Linked DNA regions of Homo sapiens. The protein of the gene in region 2 purifies or fractionates together with the protein of the main gene of each other region. This does not show direct contact. Each region holds a gene or a part of one and is shown on either strand. Other genes may lie near its edges.

Region 1 (7,681 bases), on a different chromosome or scaffold from region 2:
AGAGCAAGCACCCAATAATTTGTTACGCAGATGGTTTAAGTCAGAGGTCAGCAATTTTTTCCCTGCAAAGGGTTAGACAGCAAATATTTGAAGCTTTGCGGCCATCTCTGTTACAACCATGCAACTCTGGGCTGTAGCACAAAAGCAGCCATAGGAGCTTCCAGACAGATGAACACCTCGCGGTTCCTGGGGGGTGGAATGCCTAGGGAGGGCATGGAAGCTCCACACAACTTCCCCCACACCTCACCCTGCATGTGTCTTCATCTGTATCCTTTGCAATATTCTTTAGAATAAACCGGTAAGCTGCCTAGCTCTGATCCTGGCACAAAGACATCTCCCTACAAATGTCTGCTGGTTAGTGGATGGATGGATGAATGAAAAGATGGGAGGATAGATAGCTGAAGGAAGTGATCCTGGAGTTAAAAAAAACAAAAAACTGGCCGGGCATAGTGGCTCACGCCTGTAATTCCAGCACTTTCGGAGGCCGAGGCAGGAGGATCACCTGAGATCAGGAGTCTGAGACCAGCCTGGCCAACACCGGGAAACCCAGTCTCTTCTAAAAACACACACACAAAAATCAGCCAGGCGTGGTGGCCTGCGTCTGTAGTCCCAGCTACTCAAGAGGCTGAGGCAGGAGAATTGCTTGAACCCGGGAGGTGGAGGTTGCAGTGAGCAAAGATCGCGTCAGTGCACTCCAGCCTGGGAAACAGAGCAACAAGACTCCGTCTCAAAAAAAGAAGAAAAAAAAAAAAAGGCCATTACATATCTGTTCCCTCTTCCTGGGAGGCTCTCCCCCACCTTCTTTCAATCTCTTCTCAAACTCTGCATCCTCAGAGGGGCCTTGCCTGATTGGCCTTCTTAAAATGGATCTGCCCCACCCCACTTTGTACTTGCTGTGCCCTCTGCTTTCAGGCGTGTTCTCAAACAGGATCTCAACAAGGCCTCCCCTGACCACACTTTAAAACTGCATGCCCTATATATACCCCATCTCTCTTATTTTTATTTGTCTCCCTAATGCTTATCCCCAGTATACTCTGTTTATTGTCTGTCTCTCCTCACTACAAAATAAACTCCCCAAGGCCTAGAGTTTTTTCTGTCTTGTTCCTGCTATATACCAGTGCTTAGAACAGCGCCCTGCACAGAATAGAGGCCCAATTCAATATGGATTCGCTACCACTACATCCTATTTGTTTCCTTCCCATCACTTTTCAAACACTCATCTATTCAGCTCTGCTGACCTGTTTCACATCTGGATCCTGTATAGCAACTGGTGTCTCCACTATATCCCCAGCATCATATCTCATACATGGCATATATTTACTGAACAAAAGAATTCATACAACCGCCCTATGAACTAGGTAATTAACCCCATTAAAGAGAAGAGGAAACAGGCCTAGAGAGATTAACTAACTTGCCCTTGTCAATCAGTAACAAGTGGAAGGGCCGGGAATACAACCACAACCTGTATGCCACCAGAAACAGTGATATACCAGGAACCTAGGAGGCGAGACCCACGTTTGGCAGGTTACCCAGTGCACCTTGTCCAATTTTATAAATGGGAAAACAGACCTAAAGGGAGGATGGGACCTCTTTAATCACCACTCCCAATAATTACAGCTAATATTTATCGAGCCCTTACAACAGGCCTGACACCATTCTACTTTTTATTTGTGTCATAATTCGTTCAGTCCCTCACAAGTCCCTCCAGCAAGACCAGGACTACAATTAGCCCATATTTTATGGAACACAGAGACCCAAAGCGGTGAAGTAATTTGCACAAGGTCACACAGCAGGTGGGAGGTGGACTTGCAGTTCTAACTGTTCTCAATCCCACACCAGCCCGGCTCAGAGCCTTGGGTCACCTCATCCCATAACCAGGAATGTTCATCCGGGCTGGGCGCGGTGGCTCACGCCTGTAATTCCAACACTTTGGGAGGCCGAGGCGGGTGGATCGCTTGAGGTCAAGAGTTCCCGACCAAGCCTGGCCAACATGGTGAAACCCCGTCTCTGCTAAAAATACAAAAATTAGTCGGGCGTGGTGGCTCGCGCCGGTAATCGCAGCTAATTAGGGAGCTGAGGGGCGAGGATGGTTTGAACCCGGTATGCAGAGGTTGCACTGAGCCGAGATCGCGCCACTGCTCCCCAGCCCCAGCCTGGGCGACACAGAGACTGTCTCAAAAAAAAGAAATAAATAAATGTTCATCTGCTTAGCAAATCCCTCAACCCCTATCCTGGTCAATGGGAGGATCCGGGGAGATGGGGAGGCGGGTTTCTACAACCTAATTCGCTCCTAAACTTGGCTAGTCCCCACCTTTGGTGGGGGGGTGTTTTTGCGTCCCCGTCCTCTTAGGACACCTAAACCAAAATGAGAGGCGGAGGAAGAGCAGGAATTAGGATGGCAGGCCTTCGCCTCTCGGTCCCCACTTGGCCCAGCAGTCGAAACCCAGAAAACAAAAAAACCTTCCCAGGTCCCGACCCACCCGGCGGCCCTCCCCTACTTGGAGCAAGTCATGCGCGCCCCACATCCCCAAGAGGCCATTCAGAGGCCGCCGCCAATCACGGAGTCCTCCTCTCTCCCAGACCCAGTCCGCAGACCCCAGCCCTGGCCACAACCTCCCAGGACCGCGGACCGCCGCGCGCACAGGGCAGGCCCGGGACCCTCGAGGCTAGCGCTGGCCCCCGCCCTCCACTGGGCCGACACCCAATCGGGAGCGCCGTCTCAAGGAGTCCGGGCAACCGGGGAGATAAGAGACGCACGCTGATTGGCCGTCGCCCCCTTCCGCCACTCCCAGCGAACGCTGAGTCTTCTCCGCGAGGGCCGCCCGTGCCCCCAGGTACCCCTCCGCGTCTTCCCCAAGTCCCCCGTAGCCTCCGGACCTGAACGTCCTCATTGCGGAGTTCGTCTATGAGCACCGCGATGGGGTACAGCGAGTCGTCGCCGTCGGCCGCCGCCATCTTGGCTCCGTCCCTTTCCTGTCAGACTGCGGCCAGCGCTGTGCTGAAACGTGGGGGGGGCAATGCTGGGAGAAGAAGGAAGGGCGGGCGTGGGGGCGCCCGAGCCAGTTTACAGGGGCTGCTCCACGGCCATTGGCCGCGCTACCCAGGGCTAAGCTCGCGTTTCTTTGGTCCGGACTTGTGAAGTCCCGCCCACTTCCGATTTGCCATTGGTCGAGTGAACAAGATTTGACTAGTTTGAGCCTAGGAGAGGGGGAAGAAAGCGGAAGTTAGCCGTGTCCTAGCGACCAAGATTGTACCCGCCCTGGTCGCTGCTAACAACGACCGAGACGAGCAGTAGTTTCTAGCCAATGAGGGGCGACATGGGGAGGAGGCTAAGCCTGCCCTTTCTTGAGTCCCCGGGAAGGCTTCTGCGCGTGCGTCGGTGGTAATACGTGACGTCCTGTGGGGAGCTGGAGGGTGTGCAGGTTTTGGGTTACCAGGCCGTGGTTCCGCTGGCTGGCTGGCTGGCTCTCCGCGCCGTTGCGCGGCAGGAGGAGGGAGTGAGACTTTGATTTGTGCTTGATTTATGCCAAGGCCCAGAGAAGGGAGCGACTTGCCCTTCTCTCTTTTTTCTTTTTCTTTCTTTTTTTTTTTTTTTTTTTTTTACTTTTTTAAAGACAGGGTCTCGCTCTGTTGCCCAGACTGTAGTGCAGTGGCAGGATCTTGGCTCACTGCCGCCTGGACCTCCCCGAGCTCAAATGATCCTCTCGCCTCAGCCTGCAGAAATAGCTGGGACTATCGGCGCGCGCCGCTAGGCCCGGCCAATTTTTAAAAAAATGTTTGTGGAGACCGAGTCTCACTGTGTTGAGCTCAGTTGCCTTGCTGTTTGGATGAAACCCAAGCCCCTCGGGCTGGTATTCAATACCCTGTCTAGGCGCGTCTCCCATCTGTTTTTTACCTTTTATCTGATGTCCTGGAGAATTACAGCTGCCTGAGCACTTCTTGCGTTTTCATGCCAGCAAGCCTCCTTGCCCAAGCTGTGCGTTCTGCTAGGGGTGCCTTTCATATTCACTTCTGAGATCTCTGCATAAATGCCTCCCCTTTACTCCCTTTCCTCTCTGTCTTCAGGCTCTGTTCTCTAGGCTTCCAGAGCCACAGAACCCCTCTCTCTGTCTCTCCAGTCCCATCTATCTCTCTGTCTCTCCAATCCCATCTCTCTCTCTCTCTCTCTCCAATCCAATCTCTCTCTCTGTCTCTCAATCCCAGAGCCTGGGCTGTGACTATGTATTCGAATTTGTTTCCTCCATAGAGTGGGAGCAGGATTGGATCTGACTAATCTCTGTTTTTAACCTCTTCAACACAGCCCTACCCCCCCACCGCAATCTTAGGACCACTCTAACTGAGGGAGTTGAATGGGGATGGGAAGGCCTGGGATGCTCTTTCCTCCTTTATTCTGCTACTTGAAGGGCTAGGCTGAGCTAGCACTCTGACAGATCTGAATACCCACAGCATCTATTTCTTTTTTCTTCTTTTTCTTTTTCTTTTTTTTTTTTTGAGACGGAGTCTCGCTCTGTTGCCCAGGCTAGAATGCAGGGGCCCGATCTCGGCATACTACAGCCTCTGTCTCCTGGGTTCAAACAATTATCCTGTCTCAGCCTCCAGAGTACCTGGGATTACAGGCGCCTACCACAACGCCCGGTTAATTTTTGTATTTTTAGTAGAGACGGGGTTTCACCACTTTGGGCCAGGCTGGTCTCAAACTCCTGACCTCAGGGTGATCTGCCTGCCTTGGCTTCCCAAAGTGCTGGGATTACAGGTGTGAGCCACCGCACCCGGCCTTTTTTTTGAGGCGGAGTTTCGCTCTTGTTGCCCCGGCTGAAGTGCAGTGGCTCAATCTCTGCTCACTGCAACCTCCACCTCTCGGGTTCAAGCGATTCTTCTGCCTCAGCCTCCGGAGTAGCTGGAATTTACAGGCATGAGCCACCACGCCCGGCTAATTTTGTATTTTTAGTAGAGACGGGGTTTCACCGTGTTGGCTGTCTTTGGTCTCGAACTCCTGACCTCAGGTGATCCGCCCACTTGGACTTCCCAGAGCGCTGGGATTACAGGTGTGAGCCACCGTGCCCGGCCCAGCATCTATTTCAAATACCCTTACCCACTGCAGTTAGGAAACTGCTGCTCATAAAAGTGGGGATGGGGTTGAATATTTCAGTCCCAGCCCTCCCTATTCCCAGGACTCCTCTCAGCCCCAAGGTCTCTGAGGCTAGGGATCTTTTTAGCTATGCGTGCCTGTCTTGGTGTCAGGCTGCTTGGGATGTTGGGCTGGTGGCCTTTGAAGTGCTTAGGGCCTAGGAATTTTCAGAGGCTTAAATGAGGCATTATAAATCTCAGAAACAAAATAAAAACAAATTATGGATTCCAAAATGCAAAACAAAACTGCAAACTTTAATAAGTATTTAACAAATACCTATACAAATCAATACCTATACAGATCAATACCTATACAGATCAATACCTATACAGATCAATACCTATACAAATCAATACCTATACAGATCAATGCCAGTGATAATAGCTACAGTAAAGTGTATTCAGTAAATTAATTCATTTAACCCTGACAATAACTCTATGATATATGTAAAGTAGCAGCATCATCCTAATTTAATGGATGAGGAAACCGAGGCATAGAGAACTTTAGGAATTTGTCCAAGTTCTCATAGATGGTAATAGTGGTGCTGGAATTTGTTTGTTTGTTTGAGACAGGGTCTTGCCTTGTTGCCTAGGCTGGGAGTGTAGGGACGCAATCTGTTCTGTGCTCAGTGCAGTCTTGATCTCCCAGGCTCAAGTGGTCCTCTCACCTCGGCCCCCCCAATGCCCGGTAGCTAAGACTAAAGGCATGTGTGACCATGCCCGGGTAATTTTTTAATTTTTGTAGAGACCCCTGGGGTCTCACTGTGTTGCCCAGGCTCGTCTCAAACTCCTGGGTTCAAATGATCCACCTGCCTTGGCTTCCCAAAGTGCTGGGGTTACAAACAGGAGCCACCCCACTCATCGGGTGCTGGAATTTGAACCTGGGCAGTCTGACTCCAAAGGCTTGCTTGACTAAAACTCAGCTTTAATATAATGATACAATCCAGGTGTGGTGGTGGCTCATGCTTGTAATCTGAACACTTTGAGAGTCCAAGGAGGAAGGATTGCTTGAAGCCAGGAGGTAAAGACCAGCCTGGGTAACATAGCAAGACCCCTGTCACTGCAAAAAAGAAAGAAAGTTTAGCCGGGAGTGGTGGCACATGCCTGTAGTACATCAGGTATATCCCTGTAGTACTCAGGAGGCAGAGGCAAGAGGATCACTTGAGCCCAAGAGATCGAGGCTGCAGTGAGCCATGATCACACCACTACACTCTAGCCTGGGCAACAGCCAAGACCCTGTCTCAAAAAAAATTAAAATAAAATAGAAATACATATATATGTGTATGTATATATATATATATATATATATATATATATATATATATATATACATACACACACACACACATATATATGTGTATATATATATATATACACACACATATATATGTATATATATAAAATATTTGATGGGGGATTTTGGATTATTTTACTATGCCTGAGTTCATAGTGGGGTGGGGTGTACAAATGCAAGAGATTCTGGGACTAGGAGACATTCCTGATGTTGGGTCTTGGGCTTTCCTAATCCTCAGTTTCCTTTTTTTTTTTTGAGATGGAGCTTCACTCTTGTTGCCCAGGCTGGAGTGCAATGGCGCGATCTCAGCTCACCGCAACCTCTGCCTCCCAGGTTCAAGCGATTCTCGTGCCTCAACTTCCCCAGTAGCTGTGATTACAGGCATGCGCCACCATGCCCAGCTAATTTTTGTATTATCAGTAGACATGGGGTTTCTCCATGTTGGTCAGGCTGGTCTCAAACTCCTGACCTCAGGTGATCCGTGCGCCTTGGCCTCCCAAAGTGCTGGGATTACAGGCGTGAGCCATCACACCTGGCCTTTTTTTTTTTTAATTTTAAAAATGTACAGACGGGGGTCTCACTATGTTGCCTAGGCTGGTCTCGAACTCCTGGGCTCAAGTGATCCGCCTTGGCCTCCCAAAGTGCTGGGATTACAGGTGTGAGCCACTGTGCCCGGCCCTGATCCTCAGTTTCTACATATGTAAAATAGGAAAGTCCACTATTTGATAGATTATTGCATAAAATATCGGACATACCAACTATGGATTATTAAAGAACTTTCATAAAAACCACTTAGATCTGTATGTATGGAGTAAGAGAAATGGGGACGATATATGTTGAATGGAAAGTGGAAGTTGCAACGTGTCTTAGTTCAGGCTGCTGTAACAAAATACCATAAACTGGGTAGCTTATAAACAACAGAAACTTATTTCTCACAGTTTGGGAGGCCAGGAAGTCTGAGATCAAGGCACCAGCAATTTAGCGTCTGGTGAGGGTCCACTTTCTGATTCGTAGATGGTGCCATCTAGCTGTGTCCTTCTCACATGGTGGAAGGGAGAAGCAAGTTCTATCAAGACTCTTATTTTATTTTTTATTTTCTTCTTTTTAAAATTTGAAACATCCAGCTACTGCACAATACTGGAATTTTTTTTAACAATTTTTTTTTTTTGGAGGAAAAAATGGTGAGATCCTGCCATAGGGTCTCACTATGTCACCCAGGCTGGAGTGCAGTGGCATGACCACAGCTCACTGCGGCCTCAA
Region 2 (7,727 bases):
CCACCATCAGGGTGGGAAATGCTACAAGGGGCCAGAAAGAATCCTCCAGGATGATGGAGATTCTCTCTCGCCCCTTGTAGGACTTGTGTAACCCAGGGACCTGCATAGATGTGCCTGGGTTACACAAGTTCTACAAGGGACGAGAGATAATCCCCATCATCCTCCACTGCATCTCATCCCATGCACAGATCCCATTCTGGTACCAGGAGAATATCCCTGTTCAGTCACTTCAAATCATTCCTCTCCAATGTTCCAAATCTCCAGCAGCTGTTAATTCTGTGTTGTACCCAATATTTTAAAATGCTGACAAGTTTATTACTATTAATACAAAAAAGAGTAAAGCTCACAGGTGCTTTTTACAGTCACGTGACCCCAAAGAGCTGTCACCCAGAACATGTGTTCAGGAGTGAAGAGGATAAGGTTGGGCCCGGAGAAGCTGGCCTGTGAGGATCACCCTGAATTGGGTTATATCTGTGTTTGGGACAAAGTCAGCAAGAGCATGGTCTTAACCAGCCCCGAGGGATGCCTGGGCTGGGCCCAGCTCCCTGAGGGCCTCCTGTGTGACTTCTGCCTGAGGCTGCTTAACTCCTTCTAATATGGAATGAGAAAGGGCCCTATACCATACCGGTGGGGCTGTGGAGCCTAGCTCCCTGCTCAATTTTTTTTTTTTTTTTTAAGACAGAGTCTCATTCTGTCCCCCAGGCTGGAGTGCAGTGATGCAATCTCAGCTCACTGCAACCTCCACCTCCCAGGTTCAAGCGATTCTCCTACCTCAGCCTCCCGAGTAGCTAGGACTACAGGCACGCGCCACCACACCCGGCTAATTTTTGTATTTTTTGTAGAGACGGGGTTTCACCATGTTGGCCAGGCTGATCTCGAACTCCTGAACTCAGGCAATCCGCCCATCTCGGCCTCCCAAAGTGCTGGATTACAGGCGTGAGCCACCATGCCTGGCCCCCTGCTCAGTTTTGAAGCTCTTTCTACACATCTAGTTAAATGCCTAAAATCCCACCAACTCCACAGGTTGTTACCGGGACAGCCAAGCCCTCAGTCAACTCCCAGCACTGCCCTCAGGCTTCTAAACCAAGCACCGACCAGACAGAGAAAAACGAAGAGGGCCAGACGGACTGAGGACATGTCCGACATGGCAGGTGGAACAGCCAACAGGCCACTAGGGACAGAGCAACCTAGGCCCACCGAGGCAGAGGCCAGCAGGGAGCAGCCCCGCAGTGCTGCTCAGGCAAGCAGAGTACAGCTCGGGGACTGGTCCTTCACTACAGCAGCAGTGGCCACACCTTCGTGGCTGAGCAATACCACGAGGCTGGCTGAAAACGCAGATTCCCAGATTCTGATCAGTAGGGCTGGGACGGTTGGGGACAGACTCAACTCTGACCTAACCTGTCACCTTCACAGCTGGACTTGCAGCCACTTCAAAGTTTCGGGTTTTTAAGCAAATCATCAACAATTTCCATTCCTCACACATCAGATAAGCTTTGAAATACTTTATCGGAAAAACAGGGAGAAGAGGAGCAAGGTCTGCAGTCTTGAGTACTGAGTGGGAGCTCCACCTTCCACTACAAGTCTCCTGGAGGCTGTTCATGAACAATTACTGTTATGTTAATTTCAGGTATTTGGTTTTTTTTGTTTTTTGAGACGGAGTCTCGCTCTGTCGCCCAGGCTGGAGTGCAATGGCACGATCTCGGCTGAGACCTCTGCCTTTCTGGTTCAAGCGATTCTCCTGCCTCAGCCTCCCACATAGCTAGGATTATGATTACAGGCATGCGCCATCACGCCCAGCTAATTTTTGTATTTTTAGTACAGACGGGGTTTCACCACGTTGGCCAGCTAGTCTCGAACTCGGGACCTCAGGAGATCCACCCGCCTAGGCCTCCTCTCAAAGTGCTGGGAGGTGTGAGCTACCGCGCCCAGCCAATTGCAGGTACTTTTGTTACTTGGAACGAAACACACTCCTTCTTTTCCCTGAAAACATGTTCCAGTGGCAAGTTGAGGGAAACTTCCTAGCCCCTTTTCCAAGATACAGCCTACTACTCTTCCTAGAAAAGGGGTGTAACTCACTTTGTATTCTGGATTTCCACCCTAATTATAAAACACGGTGACACTTGAAAATAGAGTGGTTGTACGTAGAAAGTTGATAAAACGTAAGTTTTGTGAACAGGCAATGTTTTTCTGTGGCTCGCTTTGAGAGAACGGTTATCTGGGTCCCGCCGTCCCGTGCGTCCCACACGAAGGCCACAGGAGAAGCGAGGCAGCGGAGACCCTCTATTCCAGCAAGCTGTCGGAGCCTTTGCCACGACGATCCTGTTTGCGGGGCGAGAAGCGTCTGAAGACGCGGAGGGAGGCTTGCGTCTGACTTCTGCAAGTGTCTCGGGGACTTTCCCTAGTCCCACCTCGCACCGCCGGAGGAGCCCAGGGAAGACGGCGCTGGCCGACCCGCCCGGGGTCTGGGCCTCCTCCCACATCCGCGGCCCTCTCCGCGGCCGGGCTCCGACAGAGGGGGCTGCGGCGCGCCTGGCGTTCCCTCCGCTGCAACTAGAGCCGAGGTACGGGAAACGCCGCTGCGTACCCCAGCCGGGCCCTCGTGAAGCGGCTCCCGCGTGGGGCCGCCCGCAGGCCTCGGCAAAGCCCCAGCTCCGCGCTCCGCAAGGAACGCAGACGGCGGCCCGGGCCCCTCTGTTCCCCGGGCCCCCTCAGCAGCGGCCACCCCGCGGGGGAACCAGCGCCCAGGAGGGCGGCGAGGGCGCCGCGGCAGCCCCAGCGGTGGTCCCGGGCGCCGCCTCCGCCCCGGACCCAGCGCCAGGAGCCACAGACTCCGCGCACCGCCCCCAGGCTCCTCCGCGCCCTGCAGCACAAAAGTGCACGCCGCCGTAGACGCCCTAGCGGTCCGCCGGGCCCGCTCACCTGACCCGCGAGGCCGCCCGCCGGGTCCTCTGCTCAGCCACCGCCACCGCCGCTGCCGCCAGCTTCCCGCCGCTGAGGAAGGAGCGCCCGACGGCGCGGGGCGGGGCGAGCGACCGCCACTCGGCGTCCACAAAGGGTCGACGCTGCGCTCTCCGCGCGCTACGCCCGCTGATTGGCCACTCGCGGGCCGGGGGCGGGGCCTCTTGTTCAAACCCACGCGGGCGGGGCATCTGTGGCGCGTCTTCCCGCGCTGCGGCGACGGCCGTTGGGGCTCGCGCGCGCCCTCGGTTGCCCCGCCCCCGCCCCTGCGCCCGGCCCCGCCACGCCCACGCCCCGCCGGCTCCCAGGTCTCCCCGCGCCCAGTCCGGCCCCGCCCCGCCAGCTCCCAGGTCTCCGCGCGTCTGGCCCTGAACTGAACGCGCCTGCGCCTGGGGCCCACGTGGGGCCCTCGGGCGGGCGTGGCGGGGCAAACAGAGGTTTGGACTCTCTCGCTTCTGCCTGGCTCAACTTCTCCGCCGAGGCATCCGTGCCGGGGTCGGGAGGAGCCGGGCACGGCAATTCCCGGGCGGTCTGGGCTCCGAGGTCTATCCAAGCCTCTCCAGAGACCGGGGTTATCTCCAAAGGCTTCCTAGGTTTACACGTAAGAAATGTAACGTGAAAGTTCAAAGCAGGGGACACGTGTTTTAAATCTCTTAGTGGAAAAGGTTTTAAATAGGATGCGAGAACCTGCAATCATTGACTTAAGTAATACCCTGAGCGCCTGCAGCAGGCCCGGCAGGCGTGGCTGCAGCTGAGAGCCAAGTGCTGGAAGTTGGGGGGGAATCCTCAGATCAATCCGCAGGTGCGGATGCGCCAAGGTCGGTGGTAAATGCTGAAATGCTGTCGGGAAACCTGGGAGTGACGTGGGGGCGCTGCTCACATAGGTCTCTAGGATAAGGAGCGTCTTAAAGCACCAAAAGGAAGAGTGGACGAGAATTCAGGAGAGGAATGGCTGGGGCAAAGCCCGAGGCAGGGGCAGGAGGCAGGAGCACGTCTCAGTGCAGTGAGAAAGAACCCTGTGATCTCGTGGGAAAGTTTTAAGTGTGAGGGGTGGAGGGACTTTTGGGCTATTCTGGGAGTGGGATGGAGACTACTGGCATGGTCAGCAGAGAAGGAACTGGAATCTGAATTGTGCTTGAAAAGAATCACTGTTCTTATTTAAAAAAAAAAAAAAGGGGGTCTCTTTCGCCCAGGCTGGACAACAGTGGCGTGATTATGGCTCACTGTATCCTCGAACTCTTGTGCTCGAGTGATTCTCACGCCTCAGCCTCCCAAGTAGCTGGGACTACAGAAGTGTGCCACTACACCAAGCTAACTTTTTTTTTTTTTTTGGTAATTTTGTAGAGACAGGGTATTGTCTTGTTACACAGGCTGGTCTCCAACTCCTGGCCTTAAGTGATCCTCCTACCTTGGCCTCCCAAAGTTCTGGGATTACAGGCATGAGGCACCACAACCACCAAGAATCACTGTTGGTAATAGATTTGGAGGAGGTGGCAGGAAGGCTGGAAGTAGAAAATCCCATTAGGTTACTGCCCAGGTAAAAGAAAATGGGACTTGATAAAGGTGACTACCTGAGAATTTAAAGTTTATGCATGTCAAAGTGAAAAGACAAATGGGGAAAAAAGTTTTTCCTGGCTGTATCCCACATAAAGGTTAAATTCCTTAATATACAGATATTCTGCAAATGCAAATGAAATCTAGATCACCAAAGAAAAGTGGTTTGGAAATAGTGGCACCCACCTGTAATCCCAGCTACTCAGGAGGCTGGGGTGAGAGAATCCCTTGAGCCCAGGAGTTGGAGGCTGCAGTGAACTATGATTGCACCACTGCACTCCAGCCTGGGCAGCAGAGTGAGACCCCATCTCTTAAAAAAAGAAAAGAAAAGTGGGCGTAGAATATAAACACAGTTCAGAGCAAAGAAAATACAAATGCTCCTATACAGGCGAATAGATGCTCAGCCCCAATCAGAACAAGAGCAGTGGAAATTAAAGCTATGCTGGAGTGCTGTTTGCCACGGGTCAAATTGGCAAAGATCTAAAATAATGTCTGGAGTAAGATAATATCTTCCAGAGCATATTAGTCTATTCTCATGCTGCTAATAAAGACATACCCGAGACTGGGTAATTTATAAAGAAAAAGAGGTTTAATGGACTCGCAATCATGGCAGGAGACAAAGGAAAAGCGAAGGGACGTCTTACACGGCGGCAGGCAAGAGAGCGTGTGCAGGGAGCTCCCCTTTATAAAACCGTCAGATCTCAGGAAATGTATTCACTATCCGGAGAACAGAACAGGAAAGCCTGCCCCATGATTCAGTTACCTCCTGCCGGGTCCCTCCCACGACATGGGAATTATAGGAGCTACAATTCAAGATGAGATTTGGTGTGATATTTTGACATGTATATACAAAGTATAATGATCCATCAAGGTAGTTAGCATATCCATCACCTCAAACATCATTTCTTTTGTGTTGGGAACATTCAAAATCCTCTCCTCTACCTATTAGAAAATATGCAGTAAGTTACTGTTAACTGTAGTCATAAAATATTAACAGGCTTGCTAGGACATAGGACCAGAAAAAACATAGAAGTCTATGGTTACACCAAGATTGGAGTCATATTTTTCAGTAACTAATGTATTCAGGAAAATTGATGACAAGGAGAACTAGAATCCGTTAAAAAAAAGACTCAAATTGAAGAAAGAGCATCAGTCTTACACAGAGTCTTCCAAATGATAAAGGGGAACTCTTCTTACCAATTTGTTCTACAGGGCTAACAAATTTGATACTAAAACTCGAAAGGGACATGATGGGAGAAAACACACATGGTATTCTCTCTCATGAACATTGTTTAAAATTCCAAACCACATATTAGCAAATCAGATCCAATGATAATGTAAAAAAGGTAACTCATCACAACCAAGTTGGGTGTACTCCAGGAACTGGAGTACAGTTGATTTCACATTGCAAGGTCAACATGATTCATGACAATAGAATGAAGGAGAAAAAAAGTATGAAAATCTCAGTGTAGAAGCATCTAGTAAAATTCAACACCCCTTCATGGTATAATCTTTAGCAAACTAAATATACAAGTACAAAGTTAGGGACAGCCCCAAGACCACCCTCAAGTTTGAAATTCATTAGAAGGACTCAGAGAATTCCCTAGAAGCTATTGTACTCGTGGTTATGGTTCATTACCATGAAAAGGCTCATTAAAATTAACCAAGAGAAGAGGTGCATGGGGCAGCGGCCAGGAGAGGCCATGCGGAGACTCCAGTTGTTCTCTTAGTGGAGTCATAGTGGTATTGCTGGTGAAAATGTGTCACTGGGCCTGAGTCCAGAGTTCATTTACTTCCCAAATGAATATATACATTTATTCTATTGCCAGGCAAAATCCCAGGATATTTTTGAAACCTCACAAAATGCTATTAAAAATCTAGAGAAATGGCCGGGCACAGTGGCTCATGCCTGTAATCCCAGCACTTTGGGAGGCTGAGGTGGGCGGGTTACCTGAGTTCAGGAGTTCGAGACCAGCCTGGCCAACATGGTGAAACCCCGTCTCTACTAAAAATACAAAAATTAGCCAGGCGTGGTGGCATGTACCCGTAATCCCGCTACTCGGGAGGCTGAGGCAGGAGAATTGCTGGAACACAGGAGGCGGAGGTTGCAGTGAGCTGAGATTGCACCACTGCATTCCAGCCTGGGCGACAGAGTGAGACTCTGTCTCAAAAAATAAATAAATAAACATAAAAAATAAAATAAAAATCTAGAGAAATACATGTGGAAGGCTACCCTATAGATAAAGTAAGAAAAAAGAAAAGTATTAAGGAGGACACCCACCTCTATATCAGTTACCTTTTGCTGTGTGACACACTTTCCCAAACTTAGTAGATTCAAAAGGCAGCCTTTTGTTTGCTGGCATTTCTGCGGTTGGCATTTCGGCTGGGGTCACAGCATCCTGTGTCTCATGAGGCATCAGCTGAGCTCACTCAAGTGTTTGGGTCTTGGCAGAGATGACTGACTCATCTCTGCTCTGTCATCCTCCGGAAGGCCAGCCCAGGCAGGCACCAATACAGGGGCTCTTTTTATACTTCCCTCTGCTCTGCTCATATGTGCCAATGTCCAGGTGGCCAAACCACATGTGGCCAAGCCTAGGGCCAGTGTGGACACGAGAAGACAATTCCCTGGAGGACATTATTATTGTTACTATTATTTTGAGACAGAATCTCACTCTGTCGCCCAGGCTGGAGTGCAATGGTGTGATGCTCTCAACTCACTGCAACCTCTGCCTCCTGAGTTCAAGCGATTCTCCTGCCTCAGCCTCCCTAGTAGCTGGGATTACAGGCGCCCACCACCATACCTGGCTAATTTTTGTATTTTTAGTAGAGACAAGGTTTCACCATGTTGGCGAGGCTGGTCTCGAACTCCTGACGTCAAGTGATCTGCCCGCCTTAGCCTCCCAAAGTGCTGGGATTACAGGCTTGAGCCACTGCACCCAGCCTATTATCGTTATTGTTTTGAGACAAGGTCTTGCTCTGTGGCCCAGGCTGAAGTGCAGTGGTGCTCACTGCAGCCTTGACCTCCCCCAGCTGAAGTGATTCTCTCGCCTCAGCCTCCCAAGTAGCTTGGGCTACTGGCACACACCACCACACCTAACCAAACATTACTGTAGTCTACTAATTCTTACCACATACTTGAACATACTGTAAGTAAACTTAAATATATACTTAGTAATGACAGATATTGGTGTATACTGTAGTAAAATTAAACAAAT

Evidence for each region.
Region 1: the proteins of CDCA4 (region 2) and PPP2R1A purify together in Homo sapiens (affinity purification with mass spectrometry; 5 studies listed by BioGRID and IntAct, with this or other methods). This does not show direct contact.

What each region holds. Positions count from the first base shown.
Region 1 is NC_000019.10:52,185,371-52,193,051, reverse strand, and holds the start of PPP2R1A (serine/threonine-protein phosphatase 2A 65 kDa regulatory subunit A alpha isoform), read right to left. Parts: upstream 3,001-7,681; 5' UTR 2,956-3,000; coding exon 2,878-2,955; intron 1-2,877. UniProt on the Homo sapiens protein: The PR65 subunit of protein phosphatase 2A serves as a scaffolding molecule to coordinate the assembly of the catalytic subunit and a variable regulatory B subunit.
Region 2 is NC_000014.9:105,018,080-105,025,806, forward strand, and holds the start of CDCA4 (cell division cycle-associated protein 4), read right to left. Parts: upstream 3,005-7,727; 5' UTR 2,920-3,004; intron 1-2,919. UniProt on the Homo sapiens protein: May participate in the regulation of cell proliferation through the E2F/RB pathway. May be involved in molecular regulation of hematopoietic stem cells and progenitor cell lineage commitment and differentiation.